Homo sapiens: one gene and its partners. The protein of the gene in region 1 interacts with the protein of each later gene in a biochemical or structural test. Each region holds a gene or a part of one and is shown in the gene's direction. Other genes may lie near its edges. The genes, in order: ACOT8, PDZK1, SNTG2, ERBIN, SHANK1, MAST2 and DLG3.

Region 1 (3,500 bases):
TAAAAATATAAAAAAATTAGCCAGGTGTGGTGGTGGGTGCCTGTAGTCCCAGCTACTCGGGAGGCTGAGGCAGGAGAATGGTGTGAACCCGGAAGGCGGAGCTTGCAGTGAGCCAAGATCGTGCCACTGCACTCCAGCCTGGGCGAGCACTCCAGCCTGGGCAACAGAGCGAGACTCTGTCTCAAAAACAAAAAACCTATGTGTGGTGGCTCATGCCTATAATCCCCGCACATTGGGAGGCCAATGCGGAGAATTGTTGGAACCCAGGAATTCAAGACCAGCCAGGGCAATAAATCGAGACCTTGTCTCTACAAAAAAATAAATAAAAGGAAAATAAAAGCAAAACCTATGCTAAAAAACAAACAAAAAAAACCCTCACTGTTTTCTTTCCTTCCCTGTTACCCCCAGAGCAGATGCCCTCATGTGTTCTGCGTAGATCCCCAGCTGAGAAGAGTTTGTGGACCTTTACAGTATGTGATTTGTATTAAGAAAACCATGGGGTTTCCCCCTTCATTTTGTAAATATGAAAGTTATCCCTGTAATGGTAAATACACTTTTTCATACTGTCCCGTGTCTCTTACTCCTCATCCCTGAGGAGTATTGATTGGCCCCCCTCTTCTCGGCCCCCAGTCACTGCTATAAAGTATTTGAATACTTACCTTGGGCTCAGCCAGGTTCTTATCTTTATGCTAGTTGGGAGTAAATATGTGCTTTGTTTCTTTAATTTGTTTGTAAGTACCAGCCTTTTGATATTGTAATCCTTCCAGCCTAGTGAAATACCTGGCTGTTTTCTTTTGTGTGGGTGGGGGCATTACTTGAACTCTGAATCTCTTCATCCTGTGATGGAAGAATTCAATGAGTCTTTGCCAGTAAAGTATCTAGTGCAGGGCTTGGCATAATCTAGTTTTCCATAAATATTATTAGTTTTTGATGATTAACTTATGGGAATAATTAAAATTTGCATGATACAGAGCATAGTTGTGTGCATTATCTTGTTTAGTCTTCATAAGTAAACATGGGTGGCAGGCATTCCTGCCATCATTCTTACCTAAGGAAACTGGGACCTGAAGAGGTTTGGAACCAGCTCCCACAGTGCCCAAGGAGGCAGAGCCAGGATTTGAACCTGGTTTATGTGTCTTTGAGTGCCAAACTCTTTCCTGCTTCTTTGCTTCGCTCTTGGGCAATAATTCTAAACAATGAGAGAGCTGCCAGGGTACCCATCCCAGGTTCTGGGGAAAAGATCCTCTTTCTTGGAAAGTCTTCATCCAGGAGCAGCGTGAAATGAGCTGTGTCCAAGCCACCATTTCAAAATAAATAATTATTTGGCCGGGCGTGGTGGCTCATGCCTGTAATCCTAGCACTTTGGGAAGCCGAGGCGGGCGGATCACCTGAGCTCAGGAGTTCGAGACCAGCCTGGGCAACATGGTGAAACCCAGTCTCTACTAAAATACTAAAAATTAGCCAGGCATGGCGGCATGTGCCTGTAGTCCCAGCTACTCAGGAGGCTGAGGTAGGAGAATTGCTTGAACTCAGGAGGCGGAGGTTGCAGTGAGCTGAGATCATGCTACTGTACTCCAGCCTGGGCGACAGAGCGAGACTCTTGTCTCCATCAAAAATAAATAAATAAATAAAAATAATTATTTGTGCCCTTGCTTGTGTCTTGAAAGGCTGCAAGATAGCTAAAATAATTGGTAGTTATTATGGGAATATTAAAAGTCAAAGGACATTAGGCCAGTAGTAATGGGATTTGGGAGAAGCGATCATGTCAAAAAATTTGGCTAAGCCATATTGTTGCAGTTTCATACAAGGTTTAGTTCTGAGCTTCCTGGCTGCAAGGCAAAAAGGGGAGAGCTCTTATCTGTTTGTGGTGTGACTCTGCCAGCTATATCAGATATTAAAACCAATGCTGTTTTTTGGCTGGGCATGTGGCTTATGCCTGTAATCCCAGGACTTTGGGAGGCCGAGGCGGGCAGATCGGCTGAGGTCAAGAGTTCGAGACCAGCCTGGACAATGTGGCGAAACTCCATCTCTACTAAAAAAAAAAAACACACACAAAAATTAGCCAGGTGTGGTGGTGCACACCTGTAGTCCTAGCTACTCAGGAGGCTGAGTCAGGAGAATCGCTTGAACCCTGGAGGTGGAGGTTGCAGTGAGCTGAGATCGTGCTACTGTACTCCAGCCTGGGTGACAGAGCAAGACTCCATCTAAAAAAAAAAAGGAAAATTAGCTGGGCGTGGTGACCTTAGCCCGTGATCCCAGCTACTCGGGAGGCTGAGGCTGAGGCTGAGGCAAGGAGAATTGCTTGAACCCGGCGGCTGGAGGTCGCAGTGAGCTAAAACTGCGCCACTGCACTCCCACCTGGGCGACAGATCGAGACTCCATCTCAAAAAAACAAAACAAAAAAGAGATGTTTCAATTACATTTTAAAAATAAAAGATGTTATGGGGGAGGGGGAGGGTTGGTCCTTGGCCATTTATCAAATCAGTTCTTTTTCTAAAAGCCCAGGAAAGAATGTGAATTAGTTGGGTTTTTGTTTTGTTTTTAGTTTTTCTCTACAGAGGTAAATTTAGAGCTTGAAGAATTCAGAACAAGGTCAGCAAACATTCTAGAAAGGGCCAGATAGTAAACATTTTAGGTTTTGCCAGTGAAAGCAACTATAGACAATATGTAAACAAATTAGCATGACTTTATTACAAAAAAATTGTATTTTAAGGCAACAGTTTCCTCATCTGTACAATGGGGGTAAGAGTGGCTCTACATAGTTATTGTGAGACCAACATGAGAAAACATACCCTCCTGTCCAATGCTGTCAGGCACCCTGCATCACTCCATAATCATTAACTCCCTTCAATATGCCTCAGGGCCTACCTGCTCTGTTCCAATAACAATTTTCAAGAATAGGGCTGGAACTCATTCACACTGAAAGGTAGACCAGAGTACTGAAGTTTCTGTGATCCTCCTCAGGAATCTGCACTTTAGCTTACCTGCAGACCAAGGATTGGATTAGAGGTTTTTTTTTGTTTTTTCCCCCCAAGTTTGGTGGTAGGGAGGAAGACTTCATTCCCAGTGTCTGAAAGCAGACTGCACAAGTAACTTTGTCTAGTGTCTGGACTCTTGGTAAGCCCTTCTCAAATGCCTTTAACCTTGAGGAGCTCGCACTCTGATAGAAGTGCTGCTGGTGGCAGTGCCTGATAACAGAGAGCTGAGCAAGCCAGTTGACCTCAGACAGTGATGTTTATTGCTGTTGATTGAGCCCTGGTGCCTGGTTGACTCCCCATTTGGATCAGAGTGAAGGAAGCAACACTTCTCTAGACCTGCTTCTTTCATCTGAAGGTTGAAAGTCATCCCCAAGATGTCTCATGGCCCAGATGTCAGGGTTCCTCAAGGTCAGCCTGACTCAGACAAAGTGAGAACTTCAGGGAAACCAGGGAAGTTCTCTTCCTCTCCAAATCTTCCCTCACCTGCTTGTTGTTGGCTGCCTTATCCCTGGCCAGTGCCTT
Region 2 (3,500 bases), on another chromosome or scaffold:
TTTCTTTTCTGATTTTTTTTCTTTTGGGGTCTTTTGGCCCTATGAAATGGAAAGGTGTAGGGATCTACAGGTGAGCTTGGACATAGATGTGAACTCAAGCTGAAACTGAACTGATGCTCGCAGGTTGGGATCAGCAGAAAGAGGAGTGAAAGGTGAGGGAGCTGGAATGGGCCACAAACAGGTGCCTGGATGTGACTCAACTCTGGTGATGCCATATTTTCTCCTTTCATCCCAGAGTGGTGTTTTCCTGGCAGCTGGTCATGGCTTTTGATAAGGCAGAGCTGCCTAGCTCTCCCAAGGTGCTGGTGTTGACCACTGGTGAGTGGCTTTGCTGTTTTCTTGCCTCAATGCTCGATGGGGAGTCTATTTGTTTGCTTCTTTCTTCGCTACTTAGTCACTCGTGCCACTGGTGGCGTGGGGCTTCAGACTTTGCGGAGACTGCAGGAGAGGCCTGGTATTGGGCAGCTGGGGGCTCTCTGTCTGATTTGTACTGTACGTCTCTGTGGGCATGAAGGTCAGGGATGGCTATCTTCAATCACCATGCCATGGCTTCTAGGGTGCCTGGAGCACTTTGTGGCCTATTCTTCACCCTCCCCCATATCCTGTGTGGTCATCCGTTCTTGTCCCTCCAGGAGGGAAGGGATAGGTGGTTTATTCTGATTTGTAGGTAGGGAACTGTGATGAGAGGAACTTGAGGGCTTGCCTTGCAGGTGGTGTGAAGAGCAGACTCCAGTGCTCTGTTGTGAGCCTTCTGCCTTCTGTATCAGCCTCTTGCTGTTCTGGCCCCTGTTCTTATTCTCCTATAAAAGAAAAAGCTTTCAGCCAGCAGGTGTCGGGGCACTGGCAGAAGTCTTACCCTTAATAATAACTGTGTGCCGGAGCCCTAGCTGTCGGTTTTACACTTGTCCTGTCTTCCTCCTATGGCTCAGGACCTTGCCCCTGCAATGGGGCAACAGGAGGGGCAGGATGAATGGAAATAGAAGCTGCTTCAGGCCAGGCATGGGGGCTCATTCTGTAATTCCAGCACTTTGGGAGCCTGAAGCATGAAGATCACTTGAGCCCAGGAGTTTGAGACCAGCCTGGGCAACAAAGCAAGACACTGTCTCTAAAAAAATTAGTTAGCAGGGCATAGTGATATGTGCCTGTAGCTCCAGCTATTCAGGAGGCTGAGGTGGGAGGATCGCCTAAGCCCAGGAATTCGAGGCTGCAGTGAGCTGCGATTGCGCCACTGCACTGCAGCCTGGGTGACAAAGCGTCTGGGAGGGAGAGCCCCAACCTAGCCACTGGAATCCCTTTTCTATCGAGCATCTCTTTTCTGCTGTGGCTAGAGACTTCAGGGGCCAGAACAGCCTTTTCTAGTGCATCTCCAACATATTGGACCAGCTCTAAGGCCTGGTGTCCTTTTTTTTTGAGGCAGAGTCTCACTCTATTGCCCAGGCTGGAGTGCAGCAGTGTGATCTCGGCTCACTGCAATCTCCACCTCCCAGGTTAAAGCAATTATCCTGCCTCAGCCTCCCGAATAGCTGGGACAACAGGTGGCTGCCACCACGCCTGGCTAATTTTTGTAATTTTAGTAGAGCTGGGGTTTCACCATATTGGCCAGGCTGGTCTCAAACTCCTGACCTTGTGATCTGCCCGCCTCGGCCTCCCAAAGTGCTGGGAATACAGGGGTGAGCCACTGTGCCTGCCTTTTTTAATGGTTTAAGCTCTTCCTTGTCCTGTCCTACCTCACCAAGCTTCTACTAATCCTTCAGTTCTTGGAAGTGTCATTCCTTCAGGAAATGTTCTTTGTTCTTCCCATCCCGCTCCCTATTCCCAAGACCCTTTGTTATTTTCCCCCTTATCACTGCATTCTTCCCCAGCATGACACTCACCACGTGTGGTTATAGGAATGTAATAATGTTCCCCAATAGAAGAGGCAAGGTATGGGTCCATCTTGTCTACAGATTTAACCTCGATTCCTTGAACTTGAAAAGCTCTTCAAATGTTTGAATGAGAGTGGGCTTGTCATAAATTTTTTGGGTCATGTATTTGGACTTAATTTCTTTAGGTCAGAGGACAAAGAGGAGTTTGGTTGGAGATACTGAAATGGAAGCATCTGTGTCCAGTACTCAGTAAAAAATACGTGGGTCTGAAACTCTAGTAAAAAGGTTGTCCTTGGGGAAACAGATTTGGAAATCATTAGCAAGTTCTGGAAGGTGTCCTCCTGTGCCCCCAGCATTACTACCCAAGCAGTCTAGATTTGGTGATTGGAAGAACAGAATTATAGGAGATGGAGGATGGGGTTCTCACTCCAATTAGATTCTCTTTTCCATGGTTTTATTAATTTATTTTTTTCATCACAGAAATGACCTCCACCTTCAACCCCCGAGAATGTAAACTGTCCAAGCAAGAAGGGCAAAACTATGGCTTCTTCCTGCGAATTGAGAAGGACACCGAGGGCCACCTGGTCCGGGTGGTTGAGAAGTGTAGCCCAGCAGAGAAGGCTGGCCTTCAAGATGGAGACAGAGTTCTTAGGATCAATGGTGTCTTTGTGGACAAAGAAGAACATATGCAGGTGAATGAGACATTTGGGGCTTTTCTTCCAGGATCTCTTCAGCCCCCACATCTTCTCTGCTGATTATAATTTTGGGGGTTGGTAGAGTTTGGTTCTTTCCTGGCTGCCACTGGCAAGGCAGGACACCTTTATTGCTGTACCTTGTGTTGGCCAATCAAGTCCCCTATGAGGAACCAAGAACTGTACACATTACTCTTGGATTTGAATAGCGTTAGGTCTAACATGAATTGCATGTTCACTATATACCAAAAATGGTGCTAGGTATTTTTTTTTTTTTTTTTTTTTTTGAGATGGAGTTTCGCTCTTTCACCCAGGCTAGAGTGCAGTGGTGCGATCTCGGTTCACTGCAAGCTCTACCTCCCGGGTTCATGCCATTCTCCTGCCTCAGCCTCCCAAGTAGCTGGGACTATAGGCACCCGCCACCACACCCAGCTTTTTTTTTTTTTTTGTATTTTTAGTAGAGATGGGGTTTCACCGTGTTAGCCAGGATGGTCTCGATCTCCTGACCTCGTGATCCGCCCGCTTCGGCCTCCCAAAGTGCAGTGATTACAGGCATGAGCCACCACGCTCGGCCAGCAATTTTATATTCATTATCTTGTTAAGTCCTCATCATGACCTCATAAGGTATATGTTACAATTTCACAGATTAGGAAGCTAAGTACAGATATCTTAGCTTGCTAACATGTTCCTGCTGAGGATATATGGGAGAGTCTGGCCTTACCTTATTCTGCCTGACTCCAAAAGCATGGTCTTTTCCTTACACTGTGCTGTCCCCATGCACACGGGAGGAATGGTTACAATCTAGGGCAGCGCTCCTCTCTAGAAAGGACCAGTCTTGTAAGAACCCTCTGGGCTGGGGTTGAACCACACTCTATATTCCAGCAGTGCCAGAAGCTCAGCCTAATCTGCACCTGGATCTCGGGAGGGCAGGGATGGAGGTGGC
Region 3 (3,500 bases), on another chromosome or scaffold:
GGAAGAACTACTGAATTTGAGACGGTTGGTTGTTAATACTTTGCCATGATTGAGTTCTCAGCAAGTGGAGTGTCATGGAGCAGTGGAAGGGGACTATGTTCTCCCAAAGCTCCCCTGTCAATCAGAAGCACACAGGTGGTCCTAGAGAAGGGTGGATGCTGAGTGCAGAGGGTGCTGGGCTGCTCCAGCCTCACCCCATCAGGAGCTTTAAGTGCTCCATCCAAAGGGTCTTCGAAAGAATAACCAGTAAGAATCCTGCAGACAATAACTCCAGAATTTCAGGAGCACTGTTCTTTCCTTGACAAAGTGCTTTTCATGTTTCATCGAATTAGAAGTAGCTCCTGTTACCAAGGGAATTCGGGGTTTGGTCTTGGTCTCAGCGAGCCTGCTGACTGTACTGAGGCGCCTGAGGAAGTGGTGCAGTTGCCCCATGTCCTGGGTCCAGGGTAGAGCCCTGCTGAGCATCAGCCTCGAAACTCACGGAGGCAGGCCCGCTCCCGTCGCTGCGGGGCCTCCTGGACAGCTCTCTCCCTCCCCAGGTGGAATGCGTTCGAGGTGCTCGCCCTGGACGGAGTCAGCTCTGGGATCCTCCGGTTTTACACAGCCCAGGATGGCACCGACTGGCTGCGGGCGGTCTCAGCCAACATCAGGGAGCTGACACTTCAGAACGTGAGCACACGGTGTTTCTGAGTCTCTGCTGATGCTCATTCGTGCATGAAAAATAATGGAGACATCATGTTTCTGATGATTTATGATTAACCCGAAACAGAAAATCATGTACTTGTTTCAATGTGTCAAATCTATGTCTAAAAACATTAAAAATGAAGCCATCAGAATGTTTCCAAATCAAAGAGTAAGGCAATGTCTAACAGCTGAGAATTTCCCATCTGGTTTTGTCTTCCTCCTCCCCTCTGTCTGCCTCTGTCTCTCTCCCTCCCTTCCTCTCTCTTTCTCTCCACACACATATACAGAAATAGTTATATGTCATAATTTTATATTTTACCCAAATGCATTGATACAGTGTGACATTTTGAGTTGGGGAAACCTAATTGAGTTAAAAGTATAATTCTCCCAAACATTATGAAGATTTAGAAAAAGGCATAATTGAGCAAAAACATTACTTCTCAAATTTGTACTGCAGTCCCCCAGAAACGAAAAAGTATTCTGTCCCCTTAAGTGATGTTTGATATTAAAAGTCAACAGGATTTTAAAAATTAAAGAAATGAAAAGAGATGGGGTGGGAACGAAGACTTGATGACACGGGCGTTGCCTGGAGTGATGGGTGCCTGGACTCGGACATGGAGCCGTGGCCGCAGCCCTGGCAACTGTGGCAGGACTGGCCGTGCCTGGAGGCGGCCCTGGACCAGCCTTGCTGCCCTTGCTCCCTCTAAGCTGAGTTGCCCTGTAATTGCACTTCGATCCCTGCTCTGTTCCTTCGCAGCCTGGAGGCTGCAGAGGCTGGGTCCAGCTTGCAGACTGGCCAGGCGTGGCCCACCCTGCGGCCCTGCAGATGCACCCGCCCTGCCCCTGCCCTGCCCACCACCTCACGTCTCCCTTGCAACCTCCCTTCTTCCTGTGGCTGCAAAACAGAAGTTAACCTAACACTGGGGGAAGCAGCAATGTGTGACATTTCTCCTGTGAAGACCTCAGGGGCTTCCTTTCTGCAAGCAGAGAAGGAAGTACCAGGACCTTCCTAACATTGTAGTTTTCAAACGCAACACTTTAAATTCCAAAGTTATCTCAATAAATAGGGAAGAAAGGATGGTGCTTGACTTATATTTGCAGAAATGTTTGTGACGAGGAGCGCCCTTCAGTTCTGTCATTTCACAAATCAGCCCTCATAGGCAGGGCAGAGAAGTCAGACACCCCAATATTTCAGAACAGAAATGTGGACTCTGAGCTGCCTCCCGGCTGTGTGGCTGTGGGCTGTGGGAACATTATGATTCTGCACCTCCACTTCCTCGGTGAAATTTTGGAAAACAACATCTACCTCCATAGGTCATTGGGAGAACTAAATAAAAGAAAGAATATCAACTGTGATCACCGTAATTACCATCACAGTAATACTGACTCTCACAAGGTTATGTAGAGCAGAAATCATTTCCTCACTTTTCTCAGATATTGGAATTTAAGCACCTGCTCTTGAAGTGTAACTTCACTTACATAAATGCTGATATTTGAAAAAGAGGAATTGAAGCCTGCTAGTAAAGTTGTTTTCTACTGCTGCCATGTTTGTATTGACTCTGGCTAGGTCTTCAGATAGGAAATATGTCATTAAAGAGGCCTGTTTCCCAGGACAGAGCGTGGCTGATGACTTCCAGCTGTCACTCAGGTGAGCCATCCTGGTGTTGGTGGCTGTGGCCCTGACTCTTCTGCCTTCTCTCCACAGATGAAGATGGCGAACAAATGCTGCTCTCCTTCCGACCAGGTAGGGTTTGTATTTTCTGCTTCATGATGTAACACATCAGGTAGGGTTTGTATTTTCTGATTCATGATGTAACACATCTCGAAAAGCAGTCTCTGGTTTTTTGAAATTTGATTTGAAAATGTTGATAGGAAAACATTAGCACATTTCAGACTGCATTTGGTGGTCTCTGCCCTGCCTGTTAATTCTATAAAACTGCTCTTTCTGTGGGAATAGCATAGGTCATTCTGATCTCCTGTGTATAGATTATTTCTCTATTGGCAGTTATGTTTTGTAAAGAATCGTGATTTAAATGATGATTTAGATATGATTGTTTAAACTGAGAAGGGCTTTGAGATGACACACCTGTGTAATTTGAAATTTTAAGCATTATATTATTTTCTTAAATAAAATCCTTACTAGGAAAGCTTCATTCTCAGGAGGGCTTTGGCCCAGTGGGTGTTATTGCCAGTGGGTAGGATCCTGTCATCCCCAAATCCAGGCAGTTTGTTCACCTGGAGCCCAGAGCCCTTAACGTTGTCCTGGATTCAGGATAGCTACCTTTGTAGCCACCCTCAGGCCTGATTTTCTGCTCACTTCCCACGTCTATGAGTACTTAGGAAAACTCTATGGTAATCAAGCTGTTTCAATATCAGCCAAATCAGTTTTTAAGCCACTGTGTTATTCTTCTGTTTCCTTTATAATAAACTTATGATTTAACTTGTAATGTAAGGGAGTATGTTATTTATAGTTCATTCATTTTCTGGTTACATCTCTTAGGGGCGTAAGGAAGCATGCATCATAGCCTCAAGTTAAGAAAACTGAGAAAAACATGTTCGCTTTGCTTTAAATAGCGCACAAAAGACTTTAAATAGTGCTTAGCAAGAATATTTGAATTCACGATGGAGGACTTGAGAAGAGCAGGTCCTCTGCCTATGAAATATTTACTAAAACAATGGGAAAATAGGGCTGTGTTTTAAATTAAACCTCTCTAGTCAACATTTCTACATTAGAAAAGAAACACTAAGAATAAATGGTTCTTCTAACTTTTATCTCTTTTAATATTATTCTAAAATTACCATCAACTATTTTTGTT
Region 4 (3,236 bases), on another chromosome or scaffold:
AGTTAAAACAATTTAACCAAAAACTATGAATGTTTATGATATAATGAAATGATTTTTAACTTTCTTATTGCTTTTTCACACACCTATAAAAGTAATTTTATTACTCTCAAGAGAAATCACTAAAGTCAGAATTACTAGAGGTAAAAATAACTAGTTTGTTACAGTATTACTCAGAGAAGTCAGGGAGAAAACTTGTACCATGATTCAAATATTTGCATGGTGTGGAGGAAAAATTGCTCCTTGGTACTCTGTTATTTATACATACTGTTTTTAGTTAAATAATTTTTTTTGTTGTTAAAGGGTATATTTGTAACAAGGGTACAACCTGAAGGACCAGCATCAAAATTACTGCAGCCAGGTGATAAAATTATTCAGGTAATTAAAATAAATCTTTTTTTTTTTCATTTTATAACACTCTAATGTTTTCACAGTTTAAAATGTTTTCACTTTAACTTTGAAAATTGTGGGTGGGAGGCTGAGGCAGGAGAATGGCGTGAACCCGGGAGGCGGCACTTGCAGCGAGCCGAGATCGCGCCACTGTACTCCAGCCTGGGCGACAGAGCGAGACTCTGTCTCAAAAAAAAAAAAAAAAAAAGTTTGATACATCATAGGATTTTGTTTAAGCTCAGGAATGTTAATTTTTACTAATTTGAGGGGGATTAGAGTACCACTTCTTGGATGTGGGCTATTGTCCTTTCAGAAATGGAGAAGAAAAATTTTAAATCTGCGAAACTCATTTTTTCCTGTCCCCTCCTTTTCTTTGTTCATTCAGCTACTCATTTTACCTAAACACTTACAGTCTTAGAAGGAAGACAAACCTAGGACACAAGTATAGCTCTCATTTTCTACCCCTACTGTCACCGTTCTTAGCTGAGAACTAAAGAACTTAAAAAATAATCCTCAAACCAAAAAAAAAGGGAGAGAGAGACATTAATGTCTAATAGCTGAAAGTACAGATTCTGAAAGCCAGACTGCCTGAGTTTAAATTCTGGTCCCAACACTTTCTAAAAATAAAACTAATTAAAAAAAATTTTTTTTGAATAATTTTAAGCTTAGAAAAAAGCCACAAAAATACTACAACAAACACCAGTATTACATCAATTGGTCACCAGTCGTTCATAATTTGCTACATTGTCTTTATCATTTATTCTCCTCTTTCTTCTCTTTTTCTCCCTCCCTCCCTCTACACACACACACACACACACACACACACACACACATACACACACACACACAGTCACACTCACTCATACAGTTATACACATTTATTTTTCTGAACCATTTGGGTTTCAATTTGTGACTGAGCAAGTTACTTTGCCTCTCCATGCCTGGGCTTTCTCTTCTCTAAAATAAGATAGTGAAAGAATCTTTTTTGAGCATTATGAGAATCAAAGGATCTAATTCATATTACACCCTTAGAATTGTGTGTTTGGTACACAGTAGAACCTCAGTAAATATTAAGCTTAATTGTAAGAAATATGGTGGTCTTGATGTGATGGCTCCAAGACAATGGGAAGAGTAGCCCTTGCCCCCTGCTACGCTACAGTTTGGTCACCTCAGATACACATTAGCATTATACGACACCATGTCTGACATTATTTCTTAAGTAAGTGATTTCTAACATTGGGCTGCTACATAAGAATTGGCTGAGAAGTTGGACAAAATACACATTTTTAGACCCCATCTTCAGAGACTTTATTCCTTGGTTTGGGTAGGGCCTGTGAATCTGTATGTTATTTTAAGTTGCCAAAGTGATTCTTATTTTCTTCCAAGTTTGTGAACTACTTGGCAGAAATGCAAATAAATAACTATAAAATGTTTTTCCTAAAAGCATTTTTCCTCTTCTAGGCTAATGGCTACAGTTTTATAAATATTGAACATGGACAAGCAGTGTCCTTGCTAAAAACTTTCCAGAATACAGTTGAACTCATCATTGTACGAGAAGTTTCCTCATAAGCACTGTGGACAAAAAAAGCGGGGAAGACAGCAAGATTTATTGGAAGATACTTACAGGGGAAATTAATATTTTGACTATTTTTATATATAAAGAAGAACTCAAAAAATTATGTTCAAATTTGTACATTAATGAAATAATGGAACTTGTGGTTAGAGGGAAAGAACCACTGTACAGAATATAAAGGAGACTGTTGAATTCATACCATATAAAACTTGTTAGGTTTTTAAACATAGCAATCAAGGCTACAAAAACAAACCTGTGTTGTTTTTGTATAGATTGTAGGTTTATTTTTGGATTTCATATACATGACTGAACTGTGTGCAAGGCAATAGTTAGCCTTGATTTTAGCCCAGAGACAGATGGCAGAGCTATCTCTCTCATAGCTTTTATGCCCTTATTTTTATTCAACTGGTATTAATGTTTTTCTCCTGAAACTACTTTTTTTGATGTGGGCAAGAGATTTGAAGTGTTGGCTTTTGCTATGTGCATATTGAATTGAAGAGTGAGTAGGTGAAGGTGGTGCTGGTGGGTTCACTTTCCAAGGCCAGACTAAAACAGTTATTTTCTATAAAAATCTGGAAGCAAAGAATGGGGATGGGGAGAGCTACGTGGTAGTATGTTTTTATTAGGAGAATAATGCAATAAAATATGTAATGTCTTTTTTATAAAGCAAAAAAGACAATAATTGCATTTATGAGCTCGGCAGGATCTGTTCTTGTCATAGCCATTGACTATACATTTGCTACTGGTGATTCAGTTTTTAATTTTTTAGTCACAGGAAATTTTTAACTCTACTGTAGATGCATGTCCATGCATTTTCTGTGTTATGGAAATCCACTGATTTTTTTTTTTTTTTCAAATGGTGGTACTTGCAATCTGTTTTATAATTAGTGCTCCATTTAAATCTAATTTATAATTTTTATTTTAAGCAGCAAATGAAACAAAAATGGCCAGTTTTAAGATTGTGTTGCCTGTAACACAAAATGTTACGAAGGTTTAGGAAAGCCTCTTTGATTTTTGTTTGGCCTTGCATTGCCTTGGTAAAGTAAAAGGAAACAGTACACTTGGAGCTAGGAAACCAAAGCAAGCTTTGTGAAACTGGCACAGTGATAGAGAATTGCTGTGGAGAGTTATAGAGCAAAGGGATGGGTCCTTGAGGCCTGCCAGTGTGTAAAGGTGTTCAAATAAAGGGCTGTTTCTACAGGTAACATTAAATGTGAACTCAACACTTCCAGAGTCTTTAAAGGGTTTCTATGTGTATCAGTGTAATAGTGTTTTA
Region 5 (3,500 bases), on another chromosome or scaffold:
GGCATGAGCCACCGTGCCCAGCAATTTTTGTAATTTTTATTTTTGTAGAGACAGAGTCTCCCTATGCTGCCCAGGCTGGTCTCAAATTCCTGGGGTCAAGCGATCCTCCCTAATGTTGAGATTTCAGGCATGAGCCACCACGTTGGCCTGAAATGTACAGTTGAATGGCTAGTGGCTGCTCTAGGGGGGCACTGCAGGCCTAAAGGAAGCGGGTAGCCGGGCCAGGGTGGAGGGCTAAGATAACAGAGCTTTCCCAAGCAGAGCCCAGAGCCCAGGGAAAGGATGCTCCATGCAGAGTCTCGGAAGTGAGAAGCGAGGGAACTGGGAATGGTTGTGAATGGCTGGAGGAAAGAGGCAGGAGGGGGTATAGTGGGAAGTGCAGGAAGTAAGGGTTCATCCCAAAGGTGCGAACTTCATTCCGAGAGGGCTCCCTTTCTCTGCACTTCTGGTCTCAAAGATGGAGAAGGGAGACACATGGGGTGACCTGGCAGAAGCTGGGGAGTCAGGGCCCCGAAGTGCCTGACCTTGGCTGATTCTCCCTGTTACTCATCTAACACTTGCTTGTAGAACAGCAGGCCCTATGCGGGGACCGGGGACTCAGTAGGAAAGGAGACTGATAAAGTCACTACCCTACCCTCAGGCAGGTTTCATAATGACTTCCATGAACCTTAGGCACTTTTGCCCTTCTGCATTAAAAAAAAAAAAAATAGGCCAACACGGTGGCTCATGCCTGTAATCTGAGAACTTTTGGGGAGGCCAAAGTGGGAGGATCGCTGGAGCCCAGGAATTTGAGATGAGCCTGGGCAACATAGCAAGAACTCGCCTCTGCAAAAAAATTTAAAAATTAACTGGATGTGATTGTGCCTGCCTATAGTCCCAGCTACTCAGAAGGTTGGGGTTGGGATCGCTTGGGCCCGGGAGGCCAAGGCTGCAGTGAGCCGTGTTAACGCCACTGCACTCCAGCCCTGTCTCAAAAAAAAAAAAAAAAGTTTAAATTTTATGACTTTGTTGCTGCAAAGACCGATATTATCCAGGGTACAATTTTCTCTTTTCTTTTTTTCTTTCACTTCTACTTTGAAAAGAAATGAAAACACTTCCCCTAAAAGCATCATGGGCCCTAGACACTGTAGGTGCGATGCCTGGGATACATCAGCCCCGCCTTCAGGGAGTTTCTAGGCTAGTGGAGGAAACAGACAGCAAGTAAACAAGATGGTTTCTGGGGAAGAGAGATGCTGTGAAGAAAATGGGACAGAGGGAAGTGCAGTCTGGGTAGGGGGCCGGGGAAGGTCTCGCCGAGGAGAACTTCGCGCTGAAAAGGAACTGTGACAATAAGAGGGAAAGCTGTTGCCGAGAGAACCAGGGCTCGCAGGTGTTCTCCAATGAGGGTAGACCTGGGGCTGACAGAGGAGAAGGAAGAGGTGGGGGTGGAGGTGGACCAAGGGAGCAAGTGGGAAATGGGGGCAGGGCTGGGTCCCGCCTGCAGGACCTGTCTTCGTGTGGGCTTCCCTAGAACGGGAGCCGGAGGTGGGGATTCCTGTACCAAGGGTTTGCTACGGGGGAACCTTCAGGGAGTGTGGGAGACTGGCTGGGGTTGTGGAAGGAAGTCAAGCAGACACGGTTCACGCTGGAGTGGGAACCCATGGGGTCAGGCTGGGCACCCCGGCTTTAGTGCTGCCTCGGGCCTCCGTATCCGTCCATCGTGGGCTGTGGGCTGCTCCAGGAAGCAGGGACACATAACGGACTGGGCGAGTCCAGGACTCTGAAGGAGGGTGATTCTTAAGGGCTGCAGGCAGGTGACCCTCCCAGCAGTGGGTGAGGGATGGGATGCTGCATCCAGGGGGAGGGCAGCTGCAGGGGCACCAGCAGTGCCTGCCATAGAGGGTCTTGTAGACCAGAGTTGGGAGTTTGGTCCCCTCTGATCTCCTCCTAACTGACATGGGATTTCAAGCAGGGGCAATAGCATGCTTTTTGAAAGATGCCTCTGACTCTTGTGTGGAAAACAGACTGGAACAGGGTGGGGGATCAAGGATGGCAGCAGGGAGATGAGGGAAGAGGCTGCTCCATCCCGGAGAACACTGGTGGGGACCTGGATGTGGGCAGTGGCTGGAGGAAGGAAGCAGATCAAGAGTCGATGGAAAATCTGCTTTCTTCTCCTTTCTTTCTCCTTCCTGCCCAGACTTGAGGCTTTTCATTCCCGCAGAATTCCCTTTCGCCTTCTTTTCTTTTTTTTTTTTTTTTTTTTTTTTTGAGACAGAGTCTGGCTCTGTCGCCCAGGCTGGAGTGCAGTGGTGTGATCTTGGCTCACTGTAGCCTCCACCTCTCCACCTCATGGGTTCAAGTGATTCTCAAGCCTCAGCCTCCCGAGTAGCTGGGATTACAGGCGCCTGCCACCATGCCTGGCTAATTTTTGTATTTTTAGTAGAGAGACGAGGTTTTGCCATGTTGGCCAGGCTGGTCTTGAACTCCTGACCTCAGGTGATCCTCCTGCCTCAGCCTCCCAAAGTGCTGGGATTACAGGCGTGAGCCACGTTGCCCGGCCTCCTTCCACCGTCTTCACACTGCTCTCCCTTACGGCAGGGGCTTAGGGAAGGAATGGGGGCAGCCGTATAGTGAAGCCACAAGCCTTTCTGCGCTGACTGATCTCTCTCTATCTTTTCTCTCTCTCCCCCTCTGACTGCCGCTCCAAAGTCGAGCTTCGATCCCCACCACCGTGCCCAGCCAAGTTACGAGCGTCCTTCTTTCCTGCCTCCAGGACCTGGGTTGATGCTCCGGCAAAAATCTATCGGTATGCCACCCAGAAGAAGAGATGTGGGGGCTGGGGGAGGCCAGGAACGTGACAGTTCAGGAAAAGCAAGCAGACTTGGAAATGTTCTGTGCTCCCAGAGAGACCATAGTTTCATCAAATTGGGTTAAGAGTTCAGGCTTTGGAAATGGGTGAACTTGGCCATGAATCCTGGCTCCCCTCCTTCCCAGCTGTGTGAACTGGGGCAGGTGGCTTGACTTCTCTGGGCCTCTGGCTCTACATCTGGAGAATGGGGATGCAGTGAGCTAAAGCCCCCGCTACAGCTTTCTGGTTGTTTCTCTTATACCCGATTCCATCCATTCATTCATTTTACAAGTGTTTACCAAGCGCTCCCCACATGCCAGGAATTGTTCTAGAATGGGGATACGTCAGCGAATAAAACAGACTAAAGGTTCCTGCCCTCATGGGCTTGCCTTATAGCAGGGGAAGACAGATAATGGATTATAAGGAAAATAAGCAAGAAAATTATCTAGTATGTTAGCAGTTGTACGTGCTATGGAAAACAAAAAAAAGAGTGGGCCGGGCGCAGCGGCTCACGCCTGTAATCCCAGCACTTTGGGAGGCCGAGGCAGGCAGATCACAAGGTCAGGAGATCGAGACCATCCTGGTTAACATGGTAAAATCCCATCTCTACTAAAAATACAAAAAATTAGCCGGGTGTGGTGGCGGGCACCTGTAGTCCCAGCTACTCAGGAGG
Region 6 (3,500 bases), on another chromosome or scaffold:
CTCTCGCCCAGGCTGGAGTGCAGCGGCACATTCTCAGCTCACTGCAACCTCTGCCTCCCGGATTCAAGCGATTCTCTTGCCTCAGCCTCCCGAGTAGCTGGGATTACAGGCATGCACCACCATGCCTGGCTAATTCTCTATTTTTAGTGGAGATGGGGTTTCACCATGTTGGCCAGGCTAGTCACGAGCTCCTAACCTCAGATGATCTGCCCGCCTTGGCCTCCCAAAGTGCTGGGATTACAGGCGTGAACTACCACGGCCTAATTTTTTATTTTTTGTAGAGGTGGTATCTTACCATGTTGCTCAGGCTAGCCTCGAACTCCTGGGCTCAAGTGATTCTCCCACCTTGACCTCCCAAAGTGCTGGGATTATGGGCATGAGTGCCCAGTTTGTTTTTCAAATTGAAATATAATTCATGGCTACTTGTGAAAAGTTTTCATTGTGAAATAGTTACAGAGAGAAATATGTAAAAGTCCTGGGAACCTTTAAATTACTAAATCTGATAGTCTTTTCCTCATCTTGTCTGACCTCTGTGAACTATTTGTCACTGTTGACTGTGTGTTCCTTGTTGACATTTTTTTCTTTTTTAATATTATAATATCCATTCTGTTACTGCTTCTCTAACTGCTCTCTTGTGTGTCTTTGTCTTGTGTTTTCTCTTCCTGTTCCTGAAATGTTCCTTGAGGACATGTCCTCTGTCCTTAGCTTGATCCTTTATTGTGCTCTATTTAGCAGGCTCATTCTGTTTGTAGATGTTGAGGATGTAGAACAAGGGTCTGCAGTCCTCTTTATTTATGGCATTGTGTCACAGAACATCCTTGTAAAGTGAGCTGAGTCTCTTTAGGTGTGACCTCTTTCCTTAGCTCTACATTTCCATTTTTGTGCTTAACATTTCCACCGTAGACTCATCATTTGTGTTCTTAACATTTGTGATTTTTTTTTTTTTTTGAGACAGGGTCTCACTTTGTTGCCCAGGCTGGAGTGCAGTGGTGGGACCTCAGCTCACTGCAACCTTCGCCTCCCAGGCTCAAGTGATTCTCCAGCTTCAGCCTCCCCAGTAGCTGGGATTGCAGGCGTCCGCCACCACGCCTGGCTAATTTTTGTATTTTTAGTAGAGACGGGGTTTCACCATGTTGGCCAGGCTGATCTCGAACTCCTGACCTCAGGTGATCCACCCACCTCGGCCTCCCAAAGTGCTGGGATTACAGGTGTGAGCCACTGTGCCCGGCCTAACATTTGTGAGTTTTATAATTTGATAGTGACCTTGAAAGTTCATAATTTGTAATAATTTATGATTTTAAAAAGGCCAAAATTTTCATTGTATGTGTCGAGACTGGTTGAATTCTATTTATTTGGGTAGTAAGAGCCCAGCTGATCAGCAAGCATCTACATCTCACACGTAACTTTTTTTTCCCTTTCTCATGACATGGAACAGTGCTTGTTACAGTTTTTATTATACTAGTATTTAAGAATACGTTCTAATCAGGATGTAGGACTTGGATCTCCAGAAGGTCAGTGGTTTACTGTATCATGAAAATAGAATAATTTCTGTGTTGAAATGTGCTTCTCTCTGTATCTTTCCTTTTTGTCATCCAACATGAAATTATATCCATGGCTTTTTTTGTTTGTTTTATTTTGAGATGGAGTCTTGCTCTGTCGCCCAGGCTGGAGTGCAGTGGCGCGATCTCGGCTTATTGTAACCTCTGCCTCCCAGGTTCAAGCGTTTCTCCTGTCTCAGCCTCCTGAGTAGCGCATGCCTGGCTAATTTTTTGTATTTAGTAGAGATGGGGTTTCACTGTGTTGCCCAGGCTGGTCTCGAACTCCTGAGCTCAGGCAATCCACCCGCCTTGGCCTCCCAAAGTATTAGGATTACAGGCGTGAGCCACCGTGCCTGGCCCACATCTGTAGTCTTTTACTTCTTCTCCTTTGACTCCCTTAGCCAGTCTGGCATTAGGTTCTCTCGATTCTGCCTTCATGAAATCTTTCAAACCATTATTCCCATTGTCACTACCTTAATTTCATATTTATAAACTTTAGTCTTGGTTGTTGCAGTATCTTAACTGTATTTACTCAGTCTTCAGTCTCTTAACCTCTAATATATTTCACGTTCTATTAACAAAAGATTGGAACTCATTGCCTCCCTGGCTAATGGTAAGTGCTTTATAAATACTCGTTAAATGTTCATTTCATTTCTCCTTATTCATATACCTTCATTAGCTTCTTATTACCCATAGAATTAAGCCTGAAGACCTTGGCATTCAAGATCTACTTGATACTTAGCACTTTTTGTTAGAAGAGTCAGTTAGTTGCCACTTCTCTTGGTTCCTTAGGACCGTCTGCTTTTCTCGATCATGGCATACAATATTAAAATTATCTTGTTTCTCTCATTAGTAAGTTCTTTGAGAGTCAGACTGTTCCATTTACTTCTGTATACCTAGGGCTTAGTATAGTACTTGAAACATAGTTATTTGTGTATTTATTAGAAACATAGATATTTGCTCAATGTCCTAATTGATTGTAAGTCAGTCAAATGAATTCCTCTGAGGCTGTCTTAATCATCATGGTATCTTCAGCCTCTAGTATTTTAACTGGTATGTAATAGACATTCAGTAAGTAATTGTTTATTGTTAGGCACTTTGATATACTTTAATTAGTCATCAGTTTGAGAAGCTCTTTATTCTCTGCTTCCGCATATTAAAATTCTACTCAGTTTTCCAGGCCTAACTCAAATGCCACAGAAACTTCTGTGAGGCCAGGTGTGGTGGCTCATACTTGTAATCCCAGCACTTTGGGAGGTTGAGCAGGCGGGTTGCTTGAGCTCAGGAGTTTGAGACCAGACTGAGCAACATGGTGAAACCCCATCTCTACAAAAAATACAAAAATTAGTCGGGGTTGGTGGTGCGCGCCTGTGGGCCCAGCTACTTGGGAGGCTGAGGTGGGACCCCTGGAAGTTGAGGCTGCAGTGAGCCAAGGTTGTACCACTGCACTCCAGTCTGGGTGACAGAATGAGACCGTGTCTCGTAAAGAAAGCAAAAAACAAACAAACAAAAAACAAAAACAAAACCACACACCCAAAAAGAAACTCTTCTGCAAAGTTGTTTTTCCACATGGGATCCTAGGAGGATCCTTAATTGGGCTTCAGGAAATCTGTGAATGTCCTGAAATTCCAGTTCTCAAAATTCTGTGGTTTAAAAGTGAAAGCTTAGGTTCCAAGAGATCAAATGCAAAAATGACTGGAAAGCACATAATAAGTAGGTGCTTAATAAGTAGTCTTATCTCATTTTGTTTCTGTAACATATTGTTTGATCCATTCCTGGTCATATAAAGTAGATGCTGAATAAATATTTGCTGAATGAAAGGATGAATCAGTGTTTTAGCACTTTCAACTTTCTGTGTTCATTTGTATTTCATTTTTGCTTTTAAGTTGCATGTTATTGAAGGTAAGAACTATGTCATCATTTTGTCTAACAATGCAGAGCTAAAGGCTTTGCTCACAATAG
Region 7 (3,500 bases), on another chromosome or scaffold:
TAACTCCCCTAATTCATTTTATTTTATTTATTTATTATTTATTTTTTAGACAGAGTCTCGCTCTGTCACCCAGGCTGGAGTGCAGTGGCGCAATCTCGGCTCACTGCAACCTCTGCCTCCCAGGTTGAAGCAATTCTCCTGCCTCAGCCTCCCGAGTAGCTGAAATTACAGGTGCCCGCTACCATGCCCGGCCAATTTTTGTATTTTTAGCAGAGACGGGGTTTTGCCATGTTGGCCAGGCTGGTCTCGAACTCCTGACCTCAAGTGATCTGCCTGCCTCAGCCTCCCAAATTGTTAGGATTACAGACGTGAGCCACCGCGCCCGGCCTCCTAAATTCATTTTAACATCTTCCTTCCTTCTCTCACCAAACTAATTTGTGCTTAATTCAAGTTCTGTTCTTTTCCTTACTATATTTGTTCTAATCTTTGAAACCCATAATGACATCCAGTGTTTCTCATTGTCACTGAGAATGAGGTTGCTTCATGATGCTCTTCTTAGTAGGAGTGGCTGACAGAATGTCTTCCTTGCTTTAGGAAATGCAGGACTCAGGCAGTGAGAATGCATTCAGTTTTGATTCTGTCACACATAGCCCGGAATGCACCTCTCGGACAGCACCTCCTTGTCTGCTGCCTCTGCCATTCTCCTTACTGCTTTGAGTGTGTAAATTGAGGGGAAAAAAGGGCTTTTTGTTAGAGTTTGGGTATTTTCATTTTCAAATCATCTGACGCTGATTTTTAAGAACTCTGTTTCAAGAGCTGTAAGCAGTAGGTGAGTATTTCACTCTTCATGGTTTTACTACATCCTATCTCATTTGGGCTTGCATATGGTAAGATAGTGTGTTTTACTTGCAGCTTCCAACTGAGCCAAAGGCCACAGTATTGCAGGTAGAAGTCAAAGTCTTGGAACTAGATTTTGGGCTGTGTGTGCAAAGGTGTGAAAACACCTTATTAACAGAGAATATGAAGAAGACAGCCTAGATTGCAGGTAGAAAAATACAAACTTCTCACTGAAATCACCCATTTGTGGTGACTCCATATGAAGACAGGTTCCACTGGATGTGAAAAGTAGAAACTTTTTTTTTGGCTTTTTTTTTTTGAGACAGAGTCTTGCTCTGTCGCTTAGGCTGGGGTGCAGTGTCGTAATCTTGGCTCACTGTAACCTCCACCTCTCAAGTTCAAGTGATTCTCCTGCCTCAGCCTCCCGAGTAGCTGGGACTGCAGGCATGCAACATCACACCCAGCTAATTTTTGTAGTTTTAGTAGAGATGGGGTTTCACCATATTGGCCAGGCTGCTCTTGAACTCCTGACCTCAGGTGATCCACCCGCCTCAGCCTCCCAAAGTGCTGGGATTACAGGCGTGAGCCTCTGCGCCCGACCTCCTAAGGCTCTTTTGATGTGTCACTCCTCTCAGATTTCCAGGGGCCACTAGATCTTGTCTATTCAAGGGCTTCCAAAATTTGCTTCAGACCTTTATTTCCAATACCATTTCCTAGGACTTCTAGCATCAGCCAAGCTGGTGTCCTTTTCCATAAGCCTGGATTGTATAGCTCCCTCCCCACCTTCTCCCACCTTCCCTTTTATTTCTTTACTCTGCATCATTTATAGCATGTCACAACAGCATGTCTTGTCAGAAGACCTGGGTTTTGTCCCAGGTTGGTTAGATGTATGACCTAGGTCAAACTATTTTTTCCTCCCTGAACCTCTGTTTCCCCATATGTAAGAGAAAGAGACCGCACTAGGTGACTTCTATGGTCCCATTGGTCTTTTCAACCCTACCATTCTGTGCTTTTTCTTTGGCTGCCCGAGGACATAGGGCCCTTTCTTTAGTGCTTCAGGAGTGTTTACCAGTCATTGTTTGGGATTGTAGTTAACATTTTTTGTCCTCTCTTTAGCTACTTTTTGAAGATATGTTTGTGAACTGAGAAAGCGCCCTGCTAGAGCTAGTTTCCTAGGATGTGGGTGAGGGAGAGGGCTATTGAGCGAGTTCTACTTTGGACTTTTATCTTGCATCCAGAAGCCAAGAGGAGATGGGGTTTGTAAAATATTTTCTCTTATGCTTCTTATTGGGAGAATGAGATGTTTCTTTGAAAGCGGGTGCATATTTACCACTTTGGCTCAGAAAGAAGGATGTGGTCTCCTGGAGACATCCTTCTAGTATACTGTGAGGCTGCTATGTCTGTGCTGTTTGGGTTGGCCTTCCATCTTTTCAAGGTGCCAGTGTCTTGGCATTTAGGGTTGGATGATCACTTCATCTTTCACTGTGCCTTTCAGGGCCCTGTTTGATTATGATCGGACTCGGGACAGCTGCCTGCCAAGCCAGGGGCTCAGCTTCTCTTATGGTGACATTCTGCATGTCATTAATGCCTCTGATGATGAGTGGTGGCAGGCAAGGCTGGTGACCCCACACGGAGAAAGTGAGCAGATCGGTGTGATCCCCAGTAAGAAGAGGTGAGTCGTCATGATCATGAGCAAGGCCTTTCCTGCCCTCTTGCTGGTATTTCTTTCTTGTTTTCCTATTAGAAGTTGCTTGAGAGCAACGTTTGTGCCTTGATTCCTTTTTGGTAGAGTCGGTACTCAACATGGTTTTTACTCAGTGAGCCAAAAAAATGGCTGCTGTGCCTGCTGCAACCCACTGCTGAGACCATTTACTGGCAGTAACAGGACTTCTTTCTGATTCCAAAACAGGGTGGAAAAGAAAGAAAGAGCTCGATTGAAAACTGTGAAGTTCCATGCCAGGACGGGGATGATTGAGTCTAACAGGGTAAGTGGGGATCCCCAAGGAAATCAGCCAGTAGGTAAAGAGGGTTGAGAAGCCTGGAGTTTAGTCTGATGTGTAGGAGAACTGGGGAACACAAAAGAAAATCTCTTTTTCAGGGGGCTGGCTCTGTCCTATCAGAACATTGACTGCTTTTCAGAAAGCAGAGAGGGAGCTCTTAAAGTTCACAGCCAGTCTGTGCTCCTTTCCCCTGGGTACCGGCTCTTGAAGATGTGTTAGAGTTGGACTGTCTGGAAGGCTGACTTGCTTGGGGAAAATGAAACCACTCGTGGGTGTCTCCCTGGCTATAGATCCTGTCAGAGCATCCGGCCAAGAAGCCCAGCTCCAGAGCTCCCACCTCCCTTCAGACCACCTGAGGCAGGCGGGTTCTCCATTCACCCCTTTTTTTCTATGAGCTTCACAGGCCAAAGAACTTCTGGAGCAGTAGAGGGAAGAGAGACGTGGAGTAGATGTGTATATCAGTGGTACCTTAGGGCATGTGTCCAGGAGGCTACAGTGACCTTTGTTCTTTAGGAAGTACCAGTGAGTGTTATGAGTGTCTGGATTATGTAGAAACTTCTAACATCCCTACAACATTTTCTTGTAAACATAATTTTCCTCTTACATCAACTTTCATTTAATCTCATAGACTCCATTTGTGAGAGATGGTCTTTTATTTAGCTCACCGTTGTCTCCATTTTAGTTTTTCTTGCATGCTTTAAAATCCATTGTTCTGTTTTTTTT

What was found.
Region 2: the proteins of ACOT8 (region 1) and PDZK1 interact in a test that uses a peptide from one of them, tested with the Homo sapiens proteins (one large-scale study listed by IntAct).
Region 3: the proteins of ACOT8 (region 1) and SNTG2 interact in a test that uses a peptide from one of them, tested with the Homo sapiens proteins (one large-scale study listed by IntAct).
Region 4: the proteins of ACOT8 (region 1) and ERBIN interact in a test that uses a peptide from one of them, tested with the Homo sapiens proteins (one large-scale study listed by IntAct).
Region 5: the proteins of ACOT8 (region 1) and SHANK1 interact in a test that uses a peptide from one of them, tested with the Homo sapiens proteins (one large-scale study listed by IntAct).
Region 6: the proteins of ACOT8 (region 1) and MAST2 interact in a test that uses a peptide from one of them, tested with the Homo sapiens proteins (one large-scale study listed by IntAct).
Region 7: the proteins of ACOT8 (region 1) and DLG3 interact in a test that uses a peptide from one of them, tested with the Homo sapiens proteins (one large-scale study listed by IntAct).

What each region holds. Positions count from the first base shown.
Region 1 is NC_000020.11:45,850,893-45,854,392, reverse strand, and holds part of ACOT8 (acyl-coenzyme A thioesterase 8), read left to right. Parts: intron 1-439; exon of another isoform or gene 440-470; intron 471-3,500. UniProt on the Homo sapiens protein: Catalyzes the hydrolysis of acyl-CoAs into free fatty acids and coenzyme A (CoASH), regulating their respective intracellular levels. Displays no strong substrate specificity with respect to the carboxylic acid moiety of Acyl-CoAs.
Region 2 is NC_000001.11:145,686,869-145,690,368, reverse strand, and holds part of PDZK1 (Na(+)/H(+) exchange regulatory cofactor NHE-RF3), read left to right. Parts: exon of another isoform or gene 1-260; coding exon of another isoform or gene 261-318; intron 319-2,345; coding exon of another isoform or gene 2,346-2,347; coding exon 2,348-2,557; intron 2,558-3,500. UniProt on the Homo sapiens protein: A scaffold protein that connects plasma membrane proteins and regulatory components, regulating their surface expression in epithelial cells apical domains.
Region 3 is NC_000002.12:1,237,349-1,240,848, forward strand, and holds part of SNTG2 (gamma-2-syntrophin), read left to right. Parts: intron 1-539; coding exon 540-669; intron 670-2,389; coding exon 2,390-2,428; intron 2,429-3,500. UniProt on the Homo sapiens protein: Adapter protein that binds to and probably organizes the subcellular localization of a variety of proteins. May link various receptors to the actin cytoskeleton and the dystrophin glycoprotein complex.
Region 4 is NC_000005.10:66,076,575-66,079,810, forward strand, and holds part of ERBIN (erbin), read left to right. Parts: intron 1-300; coding exon 301-375; intron 376-1,848; coding exon 1,849-1,956; 3' UTR 1,957-3,236. UniProt on the Homo sapiens protein: Acts as an adapter for the receptor ERBB2, in epithelia. By binding the unphosphorylated 'Tyr-1248' of receptor ERBB2, it may contribute to stabilize this unphosphorylated state.
Region 5 is NC_000019.10:50,671,303-50,674,802, reverse strand, and holds part of SHANK1 (SH3 and multiple ankyrin repeat domains protein 1), read left to right. Parts: intron 1-2,688; coding exon 2,689-2,785; intron 2,786-3,500. UniProt on the Homo sapiens protein: Seems to be an adapter protein in the postsynaptic density (PSD) of excitatory synapses that interconnects receptors of the postsynaptic membrane including NMDA-type and metabotropic glutamate receptors via complexes with GKAP/PSD-95 and Homer, respectively, and the actin-based cytoskeleton.
Region 6 is NC_000001.11:45,806,612-45,810,111, forward strand, and holds part of MAST2 (microtubule-associated serine/threonine-protein kinase 2), read left to right. Parts: intron 1-3,500. UniProt on the Homo sapiens protein: Appears to link the dystrophin/utrophin network with microtubule filaments via the syntrophins. Phosphorylation of DMD or UTRN may modulate their affinities for associated proteins. Functions in a multi-protein complex in spermatid maturation.
Region 7 is NC_000023.11:70,489,835-70,493,334, forward strand, and holds part of DLG3 (disks large homolog 3), read left to right. Parts: intron 1-2,272; coding exon 2,273-2,449; intron 2,450-2,686; coding exon 2,687-2,762; intron 2,763-3,500. UniProt on the Homo sapiens protein: Required for learning most likely through its role in synaptic plasticity following NMDA receptor signaling.